4 separate regions of the Homo sapiens genome follow, and regions 1, 3 and 4 are each linked to region 2. The links come from fine-mapping of genetic effects on gene expression. A gene starts in region 2. Each other region holds a variant in brackets. All regions are shown on one strand. Distances are from middle to middle. Region 1 overlaps DDX60L (DExD/H-box 60 like). Region 2 holds the start of DDX60L (DExD/H-box 60 like). Region 3 overlaps DDX60L (DExD/H-box 60 like). Region 4 overlaps PALLD (palladin, cytoskeletal associated protein).

Region 1 (5,103 bases), 110 kb after region 2:
CTTCCCAAAGTGGTGGGATTACAGGCATGAGCCACCATGCCCAGCCCACTTTTTATTTTTTAAAACTGATGTATAATTACTCAATGTTCTGTGTGTCACACTAAATCATCTCATGTACCTCTTATATTATGTACCATAATTTGGGATAACTGCTCTATATTAGTCAATTAGCAAAGATTTATTGAGCAATAAATATGTGTAAACTATAGCAAAAATCATGATTGGGAAACATAGTTGCTACCTTCCAAGAGCTTGCTCTCCTGATGGGGCTGTATAGCATACACATTCGAGAAGGTGGCAAACAACACAAGGTGTACATGGTAAGCAGCACGTGCTGCCCTAGAACGGTGTCCAGCAGTGGCACAATGGCAGGACATGGAAGGCATAGCAGTAAAGAGACCATATCACTTTGACCAGAGTGTAGAGCTGCACCTGTCAATTTATTCTTTTGTCTTGGTCCATCCACAGATGGAGCTGAGTCCGAAGTAGGCTTGTGGAAATTGTCATACTATCCACTGTAAGGAGTTGGTAGGGGCATTCTTTATTATGTCCACACGGTTGCCTTTTGTAAGAATCCCCCTGGAAAATTCTTACCTGATATTAGTGCTGAGAATAAATAGCTGTTTATCTCATAGACATTCTGAAATGTGTCATTCACACTTGCTCCTAGGAATCTTGGAATATAATTTGTGCCCCATTTTAGTCTCTTTCTTGTTTTTCTTTCCTTTTTACCAAATTTTGATTTATATGATCATATTGTATTATCTTTACCCTTATAAAATACCTCAATTATTGGAAAAGTACAGGTTATGAATAAATTAAGGAAAATATCAAATAAATAATAAAACCCATAATTGTAACAGAAGAAAACCAAGAACATTTCTAATGTCATAGCTATTTCTAACTCACACTAAAGAAACTTCTAGTCCTAATTCTGAAAGAATTTGTTTTTAAACATGAAATTTGGAAGCTGAGTTAGCTTGCAATACCAGCTACTTCTCTATCTACTACCTGTCAGGTTTGGAACAAGTTTACCTCTGTGAGGGTTAGCTCCCTCATGTACAAAATGTAGATGAAAATGTTTACTGCATAGGGTTGTTCTCAGGATTAACTGAGCTAACATATAACAAGTGCTTGGGGCAGCAAAGCACAGTGTTGGCACATAATCTGAACTCAATAAAGCATTGACGCTACTACTGCTACACTAACTTGTTACTTGCTCTCTAAATATGTCCCTCAAGTCTCTGAAATATACCTAAGTTTAAGATCAGTGTAGGACATGTTTCTATTAAATTGGTGGTTTTGGCTAAGTGGAGTCAAAATAACTTTTTTAAGGAAAGATACTTACATTTATAAATGTTGGTTGAAATCAAAAGGAAATTTTACCTTAATCTCACAGGTGAGTAAAGTAATCAAGGGTTTTGATGAATGAGCATCAATCTACAGAACTATGCTGCAATCTTATCACCAAGCAGTTTAATTTTTTAAATAAAAGTAAAGAGATCTTTCTGAAATGTATTTCGCCCATAGGTGATCCTTGCCGAACTCCCGGAGGATTTTAAAGCTGCTTTATATGAGTATAACCTGGCAGTAATGAAGGATTTTGCCTCCTTCCTGCTGATTGCTTCCAAGTCGGTGAACATGAAAAAAGAGCATCAACTCCCTTTGTCAAGAATCAGTAAGCAGATTTTAGTTCCATTCCGGAACAATTTAAAGAGTAAACAATCTTGGTTAAGAAAGCCTCTGGATATTGGATGCTTCAAAGCTGGTAAAGGAGCTTATTACAGGGCAGCTGTACTAACCCAAGTGTTTTATCCCCAGAAAACAATTTAGCCCATTGTAGGGTGTGATAATGGCTCTGTTTTCCAATTAAAAAAAAACTTTATAATTACCAAATATTAATTGGGCAATGGAGGAAAAAAAATAAAAGTCATTCATGAACCATTTTGATGGAAAGTTGCCTATCTGTTCAGGTTGGAAAACTGGATCAGAAAAAGTGACAGATGAAAAAGAAAACGGCATAATTTCTGGCATTTTTTTCCCCTGAGGGGCAGTTGCATAGTGGTTACAAATGTGAACACTGGCAGCAGAATGCCAAGGTCTAAATCCTGGCTCTGCTACTTATTAACCATGAGGTCTCATGCCAGTTACTTAATCTTTCTGTGTCTCATTTTTTTAATCTGTAAAATGAAATGACTAAAAATATTACCTAGCTTACAGAATTTTAGAGGATTAGGTATATTAATGTTTATAAGTTTCTTAAAACAGTGCATAGCACATAGTCAACATCGCGTAAGTCTATTCTACCCAACATGGTAGCCACCAGCTAGCTACGTGTCACTATTTAAATTAAGTTGATTAAAAATAAAACAATTGAAAAGTTAATTCTTTAGTCACTTTAGCTTTAGTCACGTTAACTTTCCAGTGCTAGTGGCTTCTACTTTGGACACAGTAGAGGTAGAATATTTCCATCATTACGGAAAGTTCTAGCAGACGTTGCAAATATCATTCTTTGCTTCAATTATTTGTTCTTGATTGAGGAGTAACTGGTATTGCAAAGTAACTAAGCTTCCAAATTTCAATTTTATAGCGGGAAACTTTTAGGGGAGAATAAATGGAAAGAAGCTAGACTAAGAGTAAAGAGTGGAGCCATAAAATGATTCCCATATTCCCCTGTCTCCTAATATAGTCATAGTTGGAGTAAAAGACAGGGAGGTAAGCATTGTAGCTACTCAAGATTTGTTGATGTAGGACACAGCATGAGCAAATGCAGACAATAATGGTGGAAGCAAGGAAAGTAGTGCAGAGAAAAGATGATGGGAGTGTGTGATTGTGTCGTGATGGGAAAAACGAGCCAGACCTGAGTGCATGACTTGGTGCCTTCCAAGTCCAGCGAGATGGTACT[C/T]GCTGGACAGAACCTCTGTTTTATCTCTTATGCCAGCTCCAAATCCACTGGTAGGAGCTGCCTGAACATCATGTCTAGGAGGTTTCTGAGGTTATATCTGAGTTCATAGGCAAAAATAACAGGTAATAAAAAAGAGTAATGATAATAAGTTAATAGTCAACATGGATTGAATGATTACTCTGTGCCAAGCTGTGTTAATGACTTTATGCACCATATCTCAATCAGTTTTCATTCTGATGAGATGAATGTCACCTACTGTGGCTTGACCTACAGTGAGTTTGAAAGGGTTAACATTTGGGCTGATTTTTAAAACCTAACGTGACCTAGTCCAAAATGGTCAGAATTCACAGGTAAAGAATGTGAAGACTCCCAACTCGTGTCTCACTTGATGAGCTGCAAGAAAGGAAGAGTAGCCATTTCACCATTTGTTTGTCTTTCGGGGAACACAGATAATGATTTGCTTCGACCAGAGACTATCAACCAGGTAAGTGAAGGATACATCTTATGTACAAAATGTGTTTAACAGACAGAGTGGGGTTACATTGCTGTGAAGCCTTGATAGGACCTCAAACCCAAAACACTGAAAAATGTCCACTGATGAGCATCATTGTCTAAGAGAATGAAGCCCTGGAGGCCAGTGTGATTTATGCTCTATGGAGTTGGCCTGAGAAACCCTGCTTCTTTGTCTAAAATTTCAGACACCACTGTTTTTTCTCATTTTTTTAAATGAGGTTTGCCACAGGTTTGCTGTGGGAAGAGGAAAAGAAAGCGGCTCACATTTTTCTAAAATTGATCATAGACCTCATAGTGCTTTTCTACTCCAGACCACATGGATCTTTGGGGACAGTGGTCTACAAAGGGGGCCACAAAGCATTAGAACCTCTGGGAGGTTCTGGATAAAATATTAGGGTGCTGGAAGATTTTAGATTTAATTTGAAATATGAGAAATAAATTCCACATTGAATATATTTAATAATAAAGATTGACACTGTGCACTGGCTTATTTTATCCCTGGGTCAGAGAGTCACACATCATGTCAAATATGGTCTTCAAGTATTTTTGCATATGTAACGTTTAAAGGAATTTTAAAAAATCGTGAATCTTCTTGCACAGTTTGGGTTGATATCTAAAAATTTTGTTAACCAAAATTTTAATAGCTGCTAATGCAATTTCAGGTTCATTATAAATATTGACATTTTAAAAGAACTGTTAAATTATTTAAAAGTTTATCCAAAAGAATATAGATATCAAAGCTATTTGATACCCAAAGTAAACAAATAGAAAAGAACACAGATGATCAAACAACTTCTTCAAAGTTACAAATTCTACATTATGTATTTTTCTCATTGAACTTTTGTATCTTCCCTTCCCTTCCCTCCCCTCCCCTTCCCTCGACTCCCCTCCCTTTCCCCACTTTTTATTTGTGACAGGGTCTCACTCTCTTGCCCAGGCTGGAGTGCAGTGGCACTATCTCGGCTCACTGCATCCTCAACTTCCGGGGCTCAGGTGATCCTCCCACCTCAGTCTCCCATATACCTGGAACTACACGCACGTGCCAGCATGCCCAGCTAATTTTTTATATTTTTAGTAGAGATGGGTTTTCAGCATATTGCCCAGTCTGATCTTGAACTCCTGGGCCCAAGCAATCCACCCACCTCAGCTTCCCAGAGTGCTAGGATTACAGGCATGAGCCACCATGCCTGGCCTGAACTTGTATTTTTATTCCAACTTGCTCCACAGTTTAATTTTACCCATGCACTGGCAGAATTTGCAGATTCCTTCTGATTCTGTACAGATTAATTTGTCTAATGTGCCCAGAACCACGGAGACTTAGTTTTTGTTTGTTTGTTTTGCTTCTCTTCATTTTCTCCTCTTCTGCCTCCTCCTCTGCCACTTTTTTCTTCTCTCTGGAGCCCAGAGGTTTGTGCTGTTTCATTTTATTCTCCCTGTGAGCACAGGGAGACACTAGCTACATGACACTCCTTTCAAGGTCATTCTGTGCACCAATGAAGATAACGATGAAAATTCTACCTTAAAATCAGCTTCTATTTATTTTTCCTTAGTGAATGTTGCTAACAGTATTGTAGTTGGATGGTTGAAATTGCCTTCAGTATGCTTTGAGAGTTCCTATTTCCCTCAGCGGTGCTGCCCATTCCCGAGGCATGCTTAGTGTCACAGTGGCCAGTGTCTGTAACACG
Region 2 (5,103 bases):
ATCAACTTAAGTCCAAAAATCCCATCTAAATCTCATCTGCTGAAAAGACCTAAATGATTAAATCAGGTATAGTTGAGACTTTGGGTATGAACCATCCTGAGGCAAAATTTCTCTCCATATGTGAAGCTTTAAGACTAGAAAACAAGTTATTTGCTCCAAAAATACAATGGTGGAACAGGAATAGGGTACCAGTTACAGATATTCCTGTTCACAAAGGGAGAAAATGGAAGGAGAAAAAGCCAAGAAATTTCAAAAATCTGCAAGGCTAACTCCATAGGTTTTAAGGCCTGTGAATAACCATTTGTGTCTCTAGGCTCTGCCCTCAGAGTCATCCTTCATGAAAGATAGCACAAGTTTGGGGCTGAATAGTTTTATCAGACTGTTTATTGCTTATGGAATTTTGGGAGTCCTATAACCGTCTTTCATTTTATTCTCTCTCTGTACCTTTCAGTTCAAGCTGGCAGTGTTTCTGCTGATATTCTCAGAAATCTTTTGGATTTCCTGTGTATGTCACAGAGATCTTTTTGAAGCACTAGCAAAAGGTTGTCCAGCTGTACTCATGACTTTTTCTCCAGAGTACGTTTTCCCAGCAGTGAGTCTCTTACTTTTACCATCCTTTGCAGTCTTGAAATCCTGATAATTTCCCACATTATCCTTGTCCTGGTTCCTTTTTGATAATAGTCCTTCCCTCTTATAAGGACCCTTCTGATTATATCAGGTCCCCAGATAATCCAGGGTAATTTCCCCATCTCAAGATTCTTAGGAATATCTGCAAAGTTCTTTTTGCAACAGAAGATGACATATTTATAGGTACAAGGATTAGGACATAGATGTCTTTGGGAGACCATTATTCAGTCTACCACAGCTGTAAATAGAGAGAGGTTAACAATATAGGAATGGAGTGAGATTCCTGAGGAAGCTGGAGGTAACCAACTCAAAAGGGAGTGGTTATATTGTATGTGGAGCATGTCATGGGCTTCTTGGACTAGATGGAGGTGTCAGACAGTTAAAAGGAGTCTCTTTAAAACAGATATATTCTTAGTGGACTTGAAGAGAACAGCAAGATGCTGTAGGGTTTTAAGGGCCACTGTAAAAAAGATCAGGAACCTATAGTCATAAACAGTAAATCTGAGGTGAAAAATATTAGACAATTTCCTTCAATGTCCTGGTAAGGGCAAAAAATGGTTTACTAGATTGAGGTGATCAAGTTGCAGTGAAGGTGCAGAGGAAAGAGAGTGGATGAAGCAGTTGAGAATGTTAGTGAGAGGAAGGTTCAGTGCCTGTTCACAGAGTTGATCCTGGGGAGGTGAAAGAGTGGGGCTCCTAAGGAGACTGAGAGATTGAGGCAAGGGGGAAGTCTCTAAAAAGTGGAAATGGAGTTTATGATTTTCAAGTTTCTGGATAATGTCCAGGCTGGAGTTATGGTAACATATTATTAAAGTGGAAGAGAACTGGATATTGATTTGGAGTAGAGTCTGCTTATGTGCATTGTACATATACTTTGCGGTGGGAAGTGGGATGTGTGGAGTTAACATCTAGGGAATCCCCACCTGATACATCTATATCTTTAAGAGAGAAAAACAACAGCAGACAGTCAATTATATTAAGAACATGTAGGGCCCACTTCTACAACCAAAAGAGGAAATCCCCATTAAATTGTATGTGCTTTGGGGGAGGAATAATGACACTGTAGTATTTAAAAGAACTGGAATGAGATAATATATACAGAGAATATTGTAGATATTATCTTTGGAATTAAATTTTGAAGTCTTGGCTACCATTAACTACCTGTAGGGTCATCGACAAGTAATTGAATTCTCTAAGCCTTATTTACCTCATCCATAAAATAGCAACAGTAAAGTTGCTCATGGGATTTCTGTGAGATTTAATGTGATAATACATGTTAAGGGCTTAGCCTATTGCCTGGCACATAAAAAGCTCAATGAATGCTTTTACAGCAAAGCCCAATTTTCTGCTGCTAGCAAATGCATTCTTATGATACAAAGGTCCAGTATCAGATGCTAGAGAGGAATTCATCTGAGATGAACTCATGACTTAATCATGAGTCATTTCAGGTTCTTTCTCAATGTCATCCTCATTGAGAAAGAGAATCATAACTATTTTCAACCAAACATAAAATTAAAGAAAAATCCTGACAGAAGTGAGCAATGTTTTCACCTCCTTTTCGAAGCCACTTTATATTCCAGAGTCTGAGAAAAAACTTTGTTCTTCTGGGCTCTTTCTATTGTGAACAAGTCACTTCCACCCTTTCCTTTTCTTGAAGACAGAACTTCCGGTTTCGATTTCTCTCCATTTATTACCCCATGCCGTTACTGGGGCACCCTCACCACCACCTTGAATCTCAATATATTCTGCACATGCATAACGTCATGGAATTAAGCGTCTGGAGCACTAAAGACCATGATGGGCTGGGGTTGAAACTCGAATTTCAAACATTAATGAGCTTGATGACAAAACTAAAGAGCATTCTTCTTCTCAATTTAAATTCTCTGTGATAGATGATTGGTCTTTCAAATGTTCACACTGGACAGTTATACTATTGGAAATTTTTCATAAAATGAACTTCTTAGGACAGAAACTCAAAGCCCCTAATCCTTTTTTACTCCATTTTTGCCTGTCCAGTACCTTGCCAGAAAAGAAAAACGCCACACCTCACCGCAGACTTTCATAGTGCTTAGCGTGCTGCATTTACTCTCAGCCTCAATTCCTTGTTTAGAGTCCCAGATTTCTCTGCTTTCTTTCCCTTTACAATTACATGCATGTCCCAGATAGCATATCATCGCTTCTACTATTACTTCCCTAAGATTCTCAGAGTAAACCAATGCAGACCTATATTCTACCTCCAGAAAACTGCGGAAATCGAAAAGGCCTCGCGGTGGAGAAAAGAAACCGAAACTAACTCCCTAGATAAAAACTCAGGCGCTGGCTGCTGTGTGGCTCAGAGCGCCCAGTCCGACGCCAGGCTCTGCGCTCGGTCTCCTCTGCTCCACCTCCTCCCCGCGGGGCGTGCAGCTCCGAAGCTCTTTGGACCTAGCAGGTTCGGCGGCCGGGGTGAGGATTGCGGGTGACGTCGGGTGTCGCTAGGGACCCTGGAGCGGAGCTGTCCCGCGGGGGTTCTAGGATTCCTTCAACATCCAGATGGACCGGGCGGGGAGGTGGCCTGGTGGCTTCGTGCGCGCCGGGCGAGGGAAGCTGGGGCGCCCACTGGGCTCGGGCGGCAGCTTCGCGGAGAGGTAGGGAAGAGGGACAACCACCGTGAGAGAGGAGAGTGCTCAGGCATTTAACGGGTCCTCTGCACCCGAGGGGGCCTGGGGATCTGGGGTGCTGAGGAGAAAGTAAGGGTCACCACATCTGAGCACAGCCATTCGAACCTGGACATTGACAGGCAGCAAGCCGCTTCCCTTTTTTCCGTCTTGTATTTAAGCTTTTTTTTTTTTTTTTTTTTTGAGTCAGTCTCGCTCTGTCGCCCAGGCTGGAGTGCAGTGGCGTTATCTCTGCTCACTGCAACCTCCACCTTCCGGGTTCACGCTATTCTCCTGCCTCAACCTCCCGAGTAGCTGGGACTACAGGCACCCGCCACCACGCCCGGCTAATTTTTTTTTATTTTTTATTTTTTATTTTTAGTAGAGACGGGGTTTCACCATGTTAGGCCAGGATGGTCTCGATCTCCTGACCTCGTGACCCGCCCGCCTAGGCCGCCCAAAGTGCTGGGATTACAGGCGTGAGCCACCGCGCCCGGCCGGATTTAAGCTCTTAATAGCGGAAATAAGGTTTTACTATTTCTCTGGAAAGGTACTTTGTTCTTTTTTCCCGCTTCTCTTTTGTTTACAAAGTTACATTGATAAATTTATAATAAACTTCTCAAGGTTTTCCATAATCAAAGAAGCTGACATCATCCGTGATGGGGCCTTAAGGATTATGAAAGCTCCTAATGACTGCTAGAAAAAGCGGTCAGAACCAAACAGAAGCAAGTCCTTTAAAGACACAATAAGAAGTCCAAACCATAACATCAACGACATACAGACCTTCATGATTTCGAGTGTTCTCCTGAAAACAGTAACATACCATTCAATCTAAGATTTGCAGTTTGAAGTTTGGTGGAACTCAGGTGCTGAGAGTTGAGGGTACTAAAATAAATGAGGGTGAGTTATGCTTCCAAGGCTCTTCGCCTTCTATCCCAAAGATATTGGGGATAGTTTAGTGTGAATCCTTCCTGATACTCTACAAAGAGACAAGTTTTTGTCTATAGCTCCTATCTCTCTATCCATCCATCCATCCATCCATCCATCCATCCATCCATCCATCATCCAGCCATCCAACCATCCGTCCATCCATCGATCCATCATCTGTCTATCTCTAGATCCATACACTTTAAAAGATATTTTGGCTGTCATACTGGTATGCTTTTCTTGGTTCATGATTTATTGGTACCTGTCAGTCTTACTTAGTAATTGCTGTATGATACCCCATGGTATGCTGGGTCATAATTGATCAGTTTTATTTGAAGCAGAAGAGAAAGACATAAAACAAAAATTAAATGCCCTTCTCTACTACTTTCCCCTTCATACTTAGTCTCACAGTTTTAGTTCTCCTGAGGCGTTACCACTCCAAAGATATACATTTCTTTCTTGGTTGCTTATAAATTATATGCTTACAAATCAGTCTTTTGTTTTATCTACTTTAGACAGACTCCGACGACTCCCTGTGAAAGAAATACTTCTAATATGAATTATATATTTTTAAAAATTCTTCTCAGGATTAGCTTTATGGCTTTTAATAAAATACCCATGTTAATTATCATCCACGGCTATGTTGATGTGGGTGGAAATCTCTGTGGTTTTCCCTGCTGCAGGCTCATTTTCTGCTTTGTAAGTATGGAGACCTGCTGGTTGATTTACTGATATCACCCTTTTTTATAACCTGCTGCTTGTTTTACTGATGTAACCATTTTTAAGGCAGCTCATAGTTTATTTGGAAATACAATTCTCTAAGAAATGTATCCAGCTTCTTATGCTCTAGTTAGTTCCCTATGCCGTTAATTACACCCAGAGAGTTTCTATTTTCATCCTAATTCCCTCTCAA
Region 3 (5,103 bases), 65 kb after region 2:
GGAAAACTAGGTGATAAACCTATGTAGTGAATCTACTCCTTTTTTGTGTGAAGTTGAGAGTTGGTAGACATGCTGTCATTCTGCTTTCTTTGTGCTGAAAGTAGTCTGTTTCCTTTTATGCATCAGGCTGTATTGTGTGTTGCTGACTTTGAACATTCCCGTTTTAAGGGAAAACAAAACAAAACAAAAACCTTGATCTTTATGATCTAGAACCTTGGATTGTGGTCTCATCTCAAAATGCCTAAGCACAATAATGTTAAAACATGGGTAATGAGGCCGGGTGTGGTGGCTCATGCCTGTAAACCCAGTACTTTGGGAGGCTGAGGCGGGTGGATCACCTGAGGTCAGGAGTTCGAGACCAGCCTGACCAACATGGTGAAACCCCGTCTCTACTACAAATACAAAAACTATCCAGGCATGGTGGCATGCTCCCGTAATCTCAGCTATTCGGGAGACTGAGGCAGGAAAATCACTTGAACCCGGGAGGCAGAGGTTGCAGTGAGCCAAGATCACACCACTGCACTTCAGCCTGGGCAACAATAACGAAACTCCATCTCAAAACAAAAAACAAAATGTGGGTAACTTTGGTTTTCTGATTTATACATGCACAAAACTTGATTGTAAGAAGGCTTTAAAAATTGTTTATTCTAGAAAGTTCAGAGAAATTGCCTGCTGATACAAAATATAAGATTAGCATTTGGTAAAGTGGGCGATTATCTGACTAGATCAAAGTCAGAAGGGATATGAAAATATTCTTCTTTATGTATTTATTACTAGCCTTGATTAGTAAGTCTTTCCAGCTGAGACCCAATTGTCACGATGTATTCTGTTTAAGACCAAAATTTGGACCTCCTCTCTAAGTCTTAATTTGCATTATTGAACCAAAGAGGATTGATTCATTCATTCAACAGATATTAATTGAGTACCTACTCTGTGCTAGACACTGTGCTTTCTCCCTGATATGCCAGTACTGACCTTGTGGTTTAGTGAAGGGGAGAGCAATTAAATAAGTAAATGTACCAATGAAAATATAAGTAAACATTGTGATACAAACTCTGAAGAAAAAAAAATCAGTTAGTTTTCACCAAGATAATAGCAAAATGGGAAGTAAGAACAACAACTTTGGAGCAGGTACTCAGGGAAGGTGTTTCTGAGGCAATGACCTTCAGCTGGGCTTTGCAGGGATAAGCAGGAATGGTCAGCTAAGAGGTGGATGAGGATTTTAAGTAGCAGGGTCGTATATGTGAAGGCCCTCAGGTGGAACACGTGTGTTCAAGGTATGAAAAGAAGGCCAGTATGTTGGGAGCAGAGTGCATGGCGGGGAAAGTGGCCTGAGATGGGGTTGGAAAGGTGGGAAGAAGCCAGACCATGCAGGAAGTTACACTTCCAGTTAAGCAGCTTGTGGTTTACTGTAAATGCATTGGGAGGACAGTGTAGGGATTTAATTAGGTATGTAGCCTAATTTGATTTTTGTTTAATAATACCATTAGGGCTATGATGTGAAGAAAGTATAGAGAAAGAGTGGAAGCTAAGAGAAAAATCAGAAGGCTGTTGTAGAAAGCCAGGTGATGGTGGCTTCAATGACAACAAAAAATGGAGAGAAAAACATAGCTTCAAAATAGATTTTTGGAATTGGAATCTGTAGGAATTAATAATGGTTTCGATATGGAGATTGGAGACAGTTAAGTGTCATGATGTCTATTGTCTGAATTTATCACCATTCACTTTATTTAGGTTAGGTCATTTATAGGAAACTGGAAAAATATGCATGATGATTTTATGCTTCTATTTTTTATTTACGATTTTGACATCAACTTTTCAACTGATTTTTTTTTCTTTACTAGGTCCATTATCTTGGCAGAGAAGTTGGAGCAAAATTTTGGGAGCTCCTCCTTGTCATTATTCGATGTCCCTTTTTGGTTCTTTCAGCTACCATAAATAACCCAAATCTTCTCACCAAGTAGGTATAGGTAAAAAGAGTGGTTGTTATATATTCAGTGGTTGAATTATATACTGTCTATATGGTCTGAAGTCTTTAAGGTTTTTTCTATGATAACTTTCAAATAAATTTATTACCCAATCTTTGAAACGTCAGTGGTCTTGCTTTGTTGCCCAGGCTGGCCTTAAACTCCTGGGCTGAAGGAATCCTCCCACCTCAGCCTCCTGAGTAGCTGGGACCACAGGTGTACATTACCATGTCTGGCTTTCTCAAATTTTTTTGAAGATATATTTCCTGGAAGTTAGAGAAGGAAAACATCTTCTCCAAAGAAAATCAAGGTCTCCCATAGCCAGATCTGAAATTGTGCAGGACAATTTCTAAAAATTTTCAAGTAAATGTCATCTGAAGTAAGAGAGAGAATTGTATCCCCCTTTCTTTGTCCTTATCCAAT[A/G]ATTAAAGCTAAAATGGAAATAACTGGGACACAGTCATTGACCTTGCAGATGACAATCATAAGAACAACAAAGCATTATATGAACGTCAAGTATTGTTTTGTTACCAGACTTGATTTTTCCTGGTAACAGCGACGATGGCAGTAACAGCAGCACTGGTAACAAGCACACAGTGCTTTCTATGTGGCAGGCACGCTAACTCATTCAAGCCACGCAACACCCTTATGAGAAAGATACTTTCGTTATCTTCTATGTTATGATGGAGAAAGGGAGGCATAGAGAAGCTGAGGAATTTGCCCAAAGTCCACAGCTCTGAAGTCAACTCAGGTGGTTTAAATTGAGAGGGCATGCTCTAAATTTTTAAACTTGTGAAATTTTCTTTGTTTAAAATATCCAAGTTCTTGATAAATACTTCTATATTTTATTTAAATTATATGCATGTTTATTCTGTAAGGTGGCTGCAATCAGTAAAACAGTACTGGAAACAGGCAGACAAGATTATGGAAGAGAAATGTATTTCTGAAAAACAGGCTGACAAATGTCTCAACTTTCTCCAAGACCATTCATATAAAAATCAATCATATGAAGTTAGACTTGGTAAGCTTATTTTTTTTATGTTTTACTATATATTTTTATATTTTACTACAAAGCTTTTTATAGGGATTTTTGTGTTTTAAATCCATATTCTAATAATCGTATGTCCATTAATTTGGATATTCTTGCTCTTCGTATCTAGTGCTCTGTGGAGAGAGATACAATGATTTAGAGAAGCATATATGTTCAGTAAAACATGATGATGTTTATTTTGATCATTTTCATCCCTGTGCTGCGCTAACGACAGATATTGTAAGTATAAAAGTGTATTTGTCCTGTTAGTGGAATTTTTAGTGTATATCGCAACTGGAAAGGGACTCAATCTTCATAGAACTGCAGCATGTATAGATAATCTTTTTCTTTCTTTACTGATTCTTTTATTTTATTCATTGATTTTTTAAATTTAATACATTTTTTATTTTTAATTTTGTGGGCATCTAAAGTAGCTGTATATATGGGGCACATGAGATATTTTGATACAGACATGCAATGCATAATAACCACGTCAGACTAAATGAGGTATGTATCCACTACCTCAAGCATTTATCCTTTAATGGATACACAATGGTAATTATGTATCCATTACCTCAAGCATAATAACCACATCAGACTAAATGAGGTATGTATCCATTACCTTAAGCACAATCCAATTCTACTCTTTTAGTTATTTTAAAATATACAATAAATTACTGTTAGCTATAATCCCTCTGTTGTGCTATCACATACTAGATCTTATTTATTCTATCTATTTTTTTGTGCTCATTAACCATTCCCTCTTCCACCCAACCCACTGTCTTTGCTAGCCTCTGGTAACCATCACTCTACTCTCTGTCTCCATGCATTCCATTGTTTTAATTTTTAGCTCCCACAGATAAGTTAGAACACGTGAAGTTTTTCTTTCTGTGCCTGGCTTATTTCACTTAACATAGTGACATCCAATTCCATCTATGTTGTTGCAAACGATAGGATCTTATTTTTTTTTATGGCTGAATGGTATTCCACTGTTTTTAAGTGCCACATTTTCTTTATTCATTAATTTGTTGATGGGCACTTAGGTTTCTTCCAAATCTTGGCTATTGTGAATGGCGCTGCAATAAACATGAGAGTCCGGATACCTCTTTGATATACTGATTTCCTTTTTTTTAAGTATATATGTAGCAGTGGTATTGCTGGATCATAAGGTAGCTCTAGTTTTAGTTTTTTGACTTTTTGTTGTTTCTATTAATATCTTATTGTATTGTCTGTCTTGAAAAGTTGCTGTGGCTGTAATTTGTGATAGGTTCATTGTTTTGTCTTTCTACTGAAGATATACTCATATCACAATTACAATGTTATAATATTCTGTGTTTTTCTGTGTACTTACTAGTAAGTTTTTTTACCTTCAGGTGGTTTCTTAATGCTCATTAACATCCTTTTCTTTCCCACTGAAGAACTCCCTTTAGCACTTCTTGTAGGACAGGTGTTGCTGAAATCTCTTAGCTTTTGTCTGAGGAAGTCTTTATTTCTCCTTCATGTCTGAAGGATATTTTCACTGGATATACTATCCCATGATAAAAGATTTTTTCCTTCAGCCCTTTATGTCATGCCACTCTCTTCTGGCCTGTGAGGTTTCCACTGAGAAGTCTGCTGCCAGACATATAGGAGCACCATTGTGTTATTTGTTTCTTTTCTCTTGCTGCTTTTAGGATCCTTTCTTTATTCTTGACCTTTGGGAGTATGATTATTAAATGTCTTGAGATAGTCTTCTTTGGGTTAAATCTGCTTGGTGTTCTATATCTTCTTGTATATGAGTATTGGTATATTTCTCTAGGTTTGGGAAGTTTTCTGTTATTATCCCTTTGAATAAACTTTCTCCTCACTCTAGGGGTTTTAAGCCCCTTTAAGGCCAATAAATCTTAGATTTGCCCTTTTGAGGCTATTTTCTATATCTTACAGGAATGCTTTTATCATTTTTAATTCTCTTTTCTTTTTTCTCTTTTGACTATATATTTTCAAATAGCCTTTCTTCAGGCTCACTAATGCTCACTTCTGCTTGATTAATTTTGCTATCAAGAGACTCTGGTGGATTCTTCAGTATGTCAGCTTTTGCTTGATTCTTTTTAATTATTTCAATATCTTTGT
Region 4 (5,103 bases), 24 kb before region 2:
CTTGAGAAACATCACCAGACTTACATTTTTGAGAGATAACTGATTGCAGTCTGGATCCGGGACAGAGGTAGGGAAAGAGGAAGACAAGACTGACAGTAGGGCGGTCCGTGAGAAGGCTTGTGCAGTAATCCAGGGGGTGCACACATTTATCATGGTTTCACGTTTGGTGTTGCTGTCATCTGGACGTCTTCATTTTGGAGAATTCCTCATATTCTGAGGCTCAGTGAGAAACTGAACTCACTTGTAATGGGATGTGAAATCTCCAAGTATTTTCTTTCCCAGCCGCTTGGAGACTGGGCACAAGTCTTGGCACTTGGCCTAGACAGCGATTAGATGTGTCCTTCTTGGACTCTGAAGTGAGAGCTGGTGATTCAGGGAAGCAGTGGGTCCAGGGTCCATAAGATAGATGATAGAAAGGAAAGAACTTGGTAATTGATTAAAGGCAGAGGTGATGCAGAGGCAGGGTTACAGGTTTCTCACCTCAACAACCAGATGACTGGTACCATTAACTTACATGCTACAAGTGGAGGAACAAGTTTTTTTATTTTATTTTATTTTATTTTTTAAGCTTGATTTTGATTTGAGCCTTTTGCAGTTGAGGGACCTTTGGTAACTCTGGTGTTGATGTCTAGGAGATTTGAGATGCTGATCTAGAGCCCAGGAGAAGGGAGAACAGAGCTGGATTGGGGATTATTAGCCTATGGGTGGCACTTTAAGACATGGGAATGCATAAGGTCATCGAGGAAAAAAGAAGGAGAAGATAGAATCCTTCGAATAATCACAGGGAAGCAAGAAAAGCTAGATATCGTGGAAGCTGGGAAAGAAAATATCTCAGGAAGCAGTACATGTCCTTTTGATTTTTGATTTTAGCAACTTGGGAATATTTAGCACCATTGCAACAGCACTTTCGGTGTATGCAACAGAAATATAAGCCAGATTGCTACATGGAAGGAAAGGAAAGAAGGAAAGAAAGAAAATATTACAGGTGTGGTGGTTTGTTTTGAAAAGATCATAGAAAGAAGGAGAGACAGAAGGTAGTAGTTGAACAAAAGTATAGACTCTGGTGAGGTTTGTTCATTTTTAGGATAGAGCGCTGTAACATGTTTTATACAAACCAAATTAGGCAGTAAGAAGGGAGAAGCTGAAAATAAATGTAAAAAAGCGGGGATGATTTATAGGTCAGCTCTCAAAAGATGTAAGAAGAAATGAGTTATTATAGGACAAACGGAGTATGAGGTGTTCAGCTTCCAGTAGGAAGGGGGCAGTTCTTTCATTGTTAAAGGAGAGAAGTAACAAAGGGTGTATGTGTGTTGGGGCATGGGGGGCGGTAAGAGAGAAAGGGAGAGAGAGAGAAACATGAGATTCTCTGCAAAATTTGTAATAGAAAGAAAGGAGAGTTCCCAAACTGAGACTTCTGTGCATTGGAGGTTTATGAGGACAGAAGATGATTTGAAATAGCTGTTGTAGAAAAAGGGGGAAGGAAGTTTTGTAAGAAGGATTTATGGGTAGAGGTGAGGGCCTGGTTGAAGTTAGATGTGATGTATTTATAGTGTCATTAATCTGTGTGATTGTGCAATTCTCTCCACCAGAGCTCAGCCATCCAGGTGAAGGTACAGAGATAGATGATCCCAGTTTGACATGCAGGTAAAATGGGAGGGAAGTGGGCAAGGCCATTGAAAATATGGTCAAGGAATAGGTGGCCTTTGACATATATGCTGGGTTGGAATTCATGGGTAGGAGTTTGAATGTAGAGATTGTCTTTGTTTTTTTGAACCAATGTCAGAGTTGAGTAGTTGCAACAGAGACTATATGGCACATGAAGTCTAAAATATTTACCTGCACTTTTACAGGAAAAAATTGCCAACCCCTTCTATAGAACATTAGCTACCTAATGACTTCATATAACACATATAAAGGCAATTAATGATCACGATGATTGATAATGATAATGGCTAATAATGGACTGCTTACCCTGCGGTGGGCATTGTGCCCAGAGTCATCATGTAGATTATTTCATTTAAAACCCTCACAGCAGCCTCTGGTTTAGAAAGGAGGAAATGGAGGCAGAAAATCTGAGTGGGAGAACCAAGGTTTAAGCCCAGGGAATAACTCCAGAGCTCATGTTCTATGCACTTTACCATCTTACCATTGTAGTTTTCATAATTGAGAATCCTAAGCAATGTATCAAACTAACAAAACTGTGGATCAGAAATCAGAGTTCTGCTATTAATTCAATTGCTTTTTAGTTCCAAATGAACATAATATGATACATTTTAAAACTTCACAAGGAGCATTATATAACAAAGCTTAAAGCAAACTTCTGAATGATGAAAACATTTTCAATTCTTAATGTAGGGAGTGTTTGCTGGAGGCAGATTATCTCACCTGCTTATTAACTCATATTTTGGTTTTAAAGAGGCGCCATCTGACAGGATCCAGTAGTCAGGATTAGGTGTAGCTTTAAAACTGCTTGCACATTGAAAAAGAAAATAATAGTTCTATGGCATATC[T/C]GGTTCAGGCTTAATTTGCAAGCCAGTTATTGCCGCGGGAACATGCACGTGGTCTAGGGAAAATGCTCATTCAATGAGGATGAACAAGGGCGGTTTCCAAGCGGGCCAAGTTCACTGGAAAATTGTGCTTCAGAGATTTCCATGTCAGTCAGCACTCCAAAATGAAAAGGTCAAAATCAAAAGGAATGAAACACAATCACAAACATCTCCATCATTTGCCTGAGATTTCATGTTTTCTGTCAAACAGTGCTCTTGGTAATTCTATGCCGGTGTGATAGACACAGAAGATGAAATAGACTAAAAAGACCCACTAATACTGCTGTTAATGAGTGAAGAGGAAATGAGGTAAACACCAACGCCATTAAAGTGGTTCTACTTTAGTAAGTAGCATTGAAAGATTTTGAAATTTTGAAGAATAAAGGATTCTTTGGCATCTTTAAATTGTCCTGTCCCCTGCCTCCTCACTTTTCTCAGAAGGAATCTGAATTTCCTAGAAATTCTTCTGTCTTCTTCTTTTTCTCATCCTTGTCTTATCCATCATCTCCAGCTTTAGCAGTTTAGCTTAATTGTCATTTTCCCTAAAACGCTCATTAGCCACAGCCATTTTTTTTTTTTTTTTGAGTTGGAGTCTTGCTTTGTCGCCCAGGCTGGAGTGCAGTGGCATGATCTCAGTTCACTGCAAGATCCACCTGCCGGGTTCAAGAGATTCTCCTTCCTCAGTCTCCCGAGTAGCTGGGGCTACAGGTGCCTGCCACCACTCCCAGCTGATTTTTGTATTTTTAGTAGAGACAGGGTTTCACCATATTGGCCAGGCTGGTCTTGAACTCCTGACCTTGTGATCTGCCCACCTTAGCCTCCCAAAATGCTGGGATTACAGGTGTGAGCCACCATGCCTGGCCAACCACAACTGTTTTTTAATTTGCTTGAAGTTGCGTAGCATTATGTTCTTCACCATGGAGGAAATGACTCTTCCTTGGCCTCGCCCATCTTACAGTCATGCTTCCTTTCTTCTACTTCCCTTTCCTGGAATAGTAAGTTGAACATGAAATCAACGGAACAACTGCTTAGTTGTGCAAGAGAAGCTTCAAGGAGGACAAAGATGAGGCAGGCGTAGTTATTCTCCTTAAATGATCTTACAATCCAGTAGGAGGGATTAGACAAGAGTAAAAAATAACTCAGTTACAAGGAGGAGCGTGATAATTTCTATTAAAATAGTTTCAACAAATTGCAGTAAGGGATAAAAATGGTAAGAGAGATCATAGGTACAAATTGTGTCACGTCACTCTTTTGGTTTTTATTTTTTTCCTATGATGCTCCCCGGCTGATGAGAAAAGTTCCAAAGCACGATGTGCAGGTTAAACATACCCGTGGACAGCCTGAGCTGATGGAAATGCTCCAGCCTCACCCTCTGTCATCACCAACACACATGCACTCAGGCCTCCCTGGCCCACTCACCATTCCTCAAACAATTCAGATTCTTTCTGGTTTTCACACCTTTGCACTTGCTGCTCCTTTTGCTTAAAATGTGCTTCCTTTCTCTTTTTCTTTTTCTTTTTTTTTTTTTTTGAGATGGAGTCTCGCTCTGTTGCCCAGGCTGGAGTGCAGTGGCTCCATCTTGGCTCACTGCAACCTCCGCCTCCCAGGTTCACACCATTCTCTTGCCTCAGCCTCCTGAGTAGCTGGGACTACAGGCGCCCACCACCATGCCCGGCTAATTTTTGTATTTTTAGTAGAGACAGGGTTTCCCCTTGTTAGCAGGATGGTCTCGATCTCTTGACCTTGTCATCCACCCGCCTTGGCCTCCCAAAGTGCTGGGATTACAGGCATGAGCCACTGCATCCAGCCCTCTTTCTGTTTTTCAAACTCCGGTTCATCCTTGAAAACTTTCTTAAATTTTACCACTTTTTGGTGCTTTCTAACAGTTCCCCAATCAATATAATTTGCTTCTTCTTCCAAGCATGTTACTTTGCATTGCGTTTCTCACAGCAGTCATCATATTAAATTACAAGTATTTGTTTAGAGAATGCTTTCCTCATTCAACTGTGAGCCCAATGGAAGCAGGAGCTGTGACTGGCGTCTTTGTATGGCAAATGCTTAGCACACTGGGTTACAGCAGCTGATGGAGAAAAGCTAAGAAATACCGGGTGTTTGAAATGTGGTTTGAGCCCTGGATAGGATTTGACACACATGTGAACAAAGGCACGAGGCAGGAAATGTTCTGATGACTGATTTGCTTTCAGCCTCCCAGAACCTGCTGCGACATTTCTCTGGGACATGCTCTCTTCAGCTAAGTGTTATTCTGCTCTTTTGAGTGAGGGTCTCATTCTGTCTCCCGGCCTGGACTGCAATGGCATGATCATAGCTCACTGTAGCCTTGAATTCCTGGGCTCAAGGGATCCTCCTGCCTCATCCTCCTGAGTAGCTAGAACTACGCGTGTGCATCGTCAGGCCTGGCTAAATTTTAAAATATATTTTTGTAGAAACGAGGTCTCCCTTTTTCGCCTATGCCAGTCTCAAACTCCTGGACTCAAGGGCTCCTCCTGCCTTGGCCTCCCAAAGTTCTGGGATTACAGATGTGAGCCACTGAGTGCAG

The links. PIP is the estimated chance that this variant, and not a neighbour inherited with it, causes the effect.
Region 1: its variant is fine-mapped to the expression of DDX60L in whole blood (INTERVAL, PIP 0.99).
Region 3: its variant is fine-mapped to the expression of DDX60L in whole blood (TOPMed, PIP above 0.99).
Region 4: its variant is fine-mapped to the expression of DDX60L in whole blood (TOPMed, PIP above 0.99).

What each region holds. Positions count from the first base shown.
Region 1 is chr4:168,371,952-168,377,054 of GRCh38, reverse strand. It overlaps DDX60L (DExD/H-box 60 like), which reads left to right. Exons shown (of 38, transcript NM_001012967.3): 34 at 1,531-1,678; 35 at 3,247-3,389. Among named protein-coding and RNA genes, the nearest start is that of DDX60, 56 kb to the right of the region's middle. RefSeq lists an enhancer at 304-473. The variant C/T (reference allele first, on the strand shown) is at 2,906.
Region 2 is chr4:168,478,346-168,483,448 of GRCh38, reverse strand. It overlaps DDX60L (DExD/H-box 60 like), which reads left to right and starts at 2,957. Exons shown (of 38, transcript NM_001012967.3): 1 at 2,957-3,072. RefSeq lists an enhancer at 2,699-2,938.
Region 3 is chr4:168,413,539-168,418,641 of GRCh38, reverse strand. DDX60L (DExD/H-box 60 like) reads left to right here. Exons shown (of 38, transcript NM_001012967.3): 20 at 1,845-1,960; 21 at 2,843-2,985; 22 at 3,125-3,234. Among named protein-coding and RNA genes, the nearest start is that of DDX60L, 64 kb to the left of the region's middle. The variant A/G (reference allele first, on the strand shown) is at 2,391.
Region 4 is chr4:168,502,620-168,507,722 of GRCh38, reverse strand. All of the region lies in intron 1 of PALLD (palladin, cytoskeletal associated protein), which reads right to left. All of the region lies in intron 1 of LOC107986198 (a long non-coding RNA gene), which reads left to right. Among named protein-coding and RNA genes, the nearest start is that of PALLD, 8.1 kb to the right of the region's middle. The variant T/C (reference allele first, on the strand shown) is at 2,511.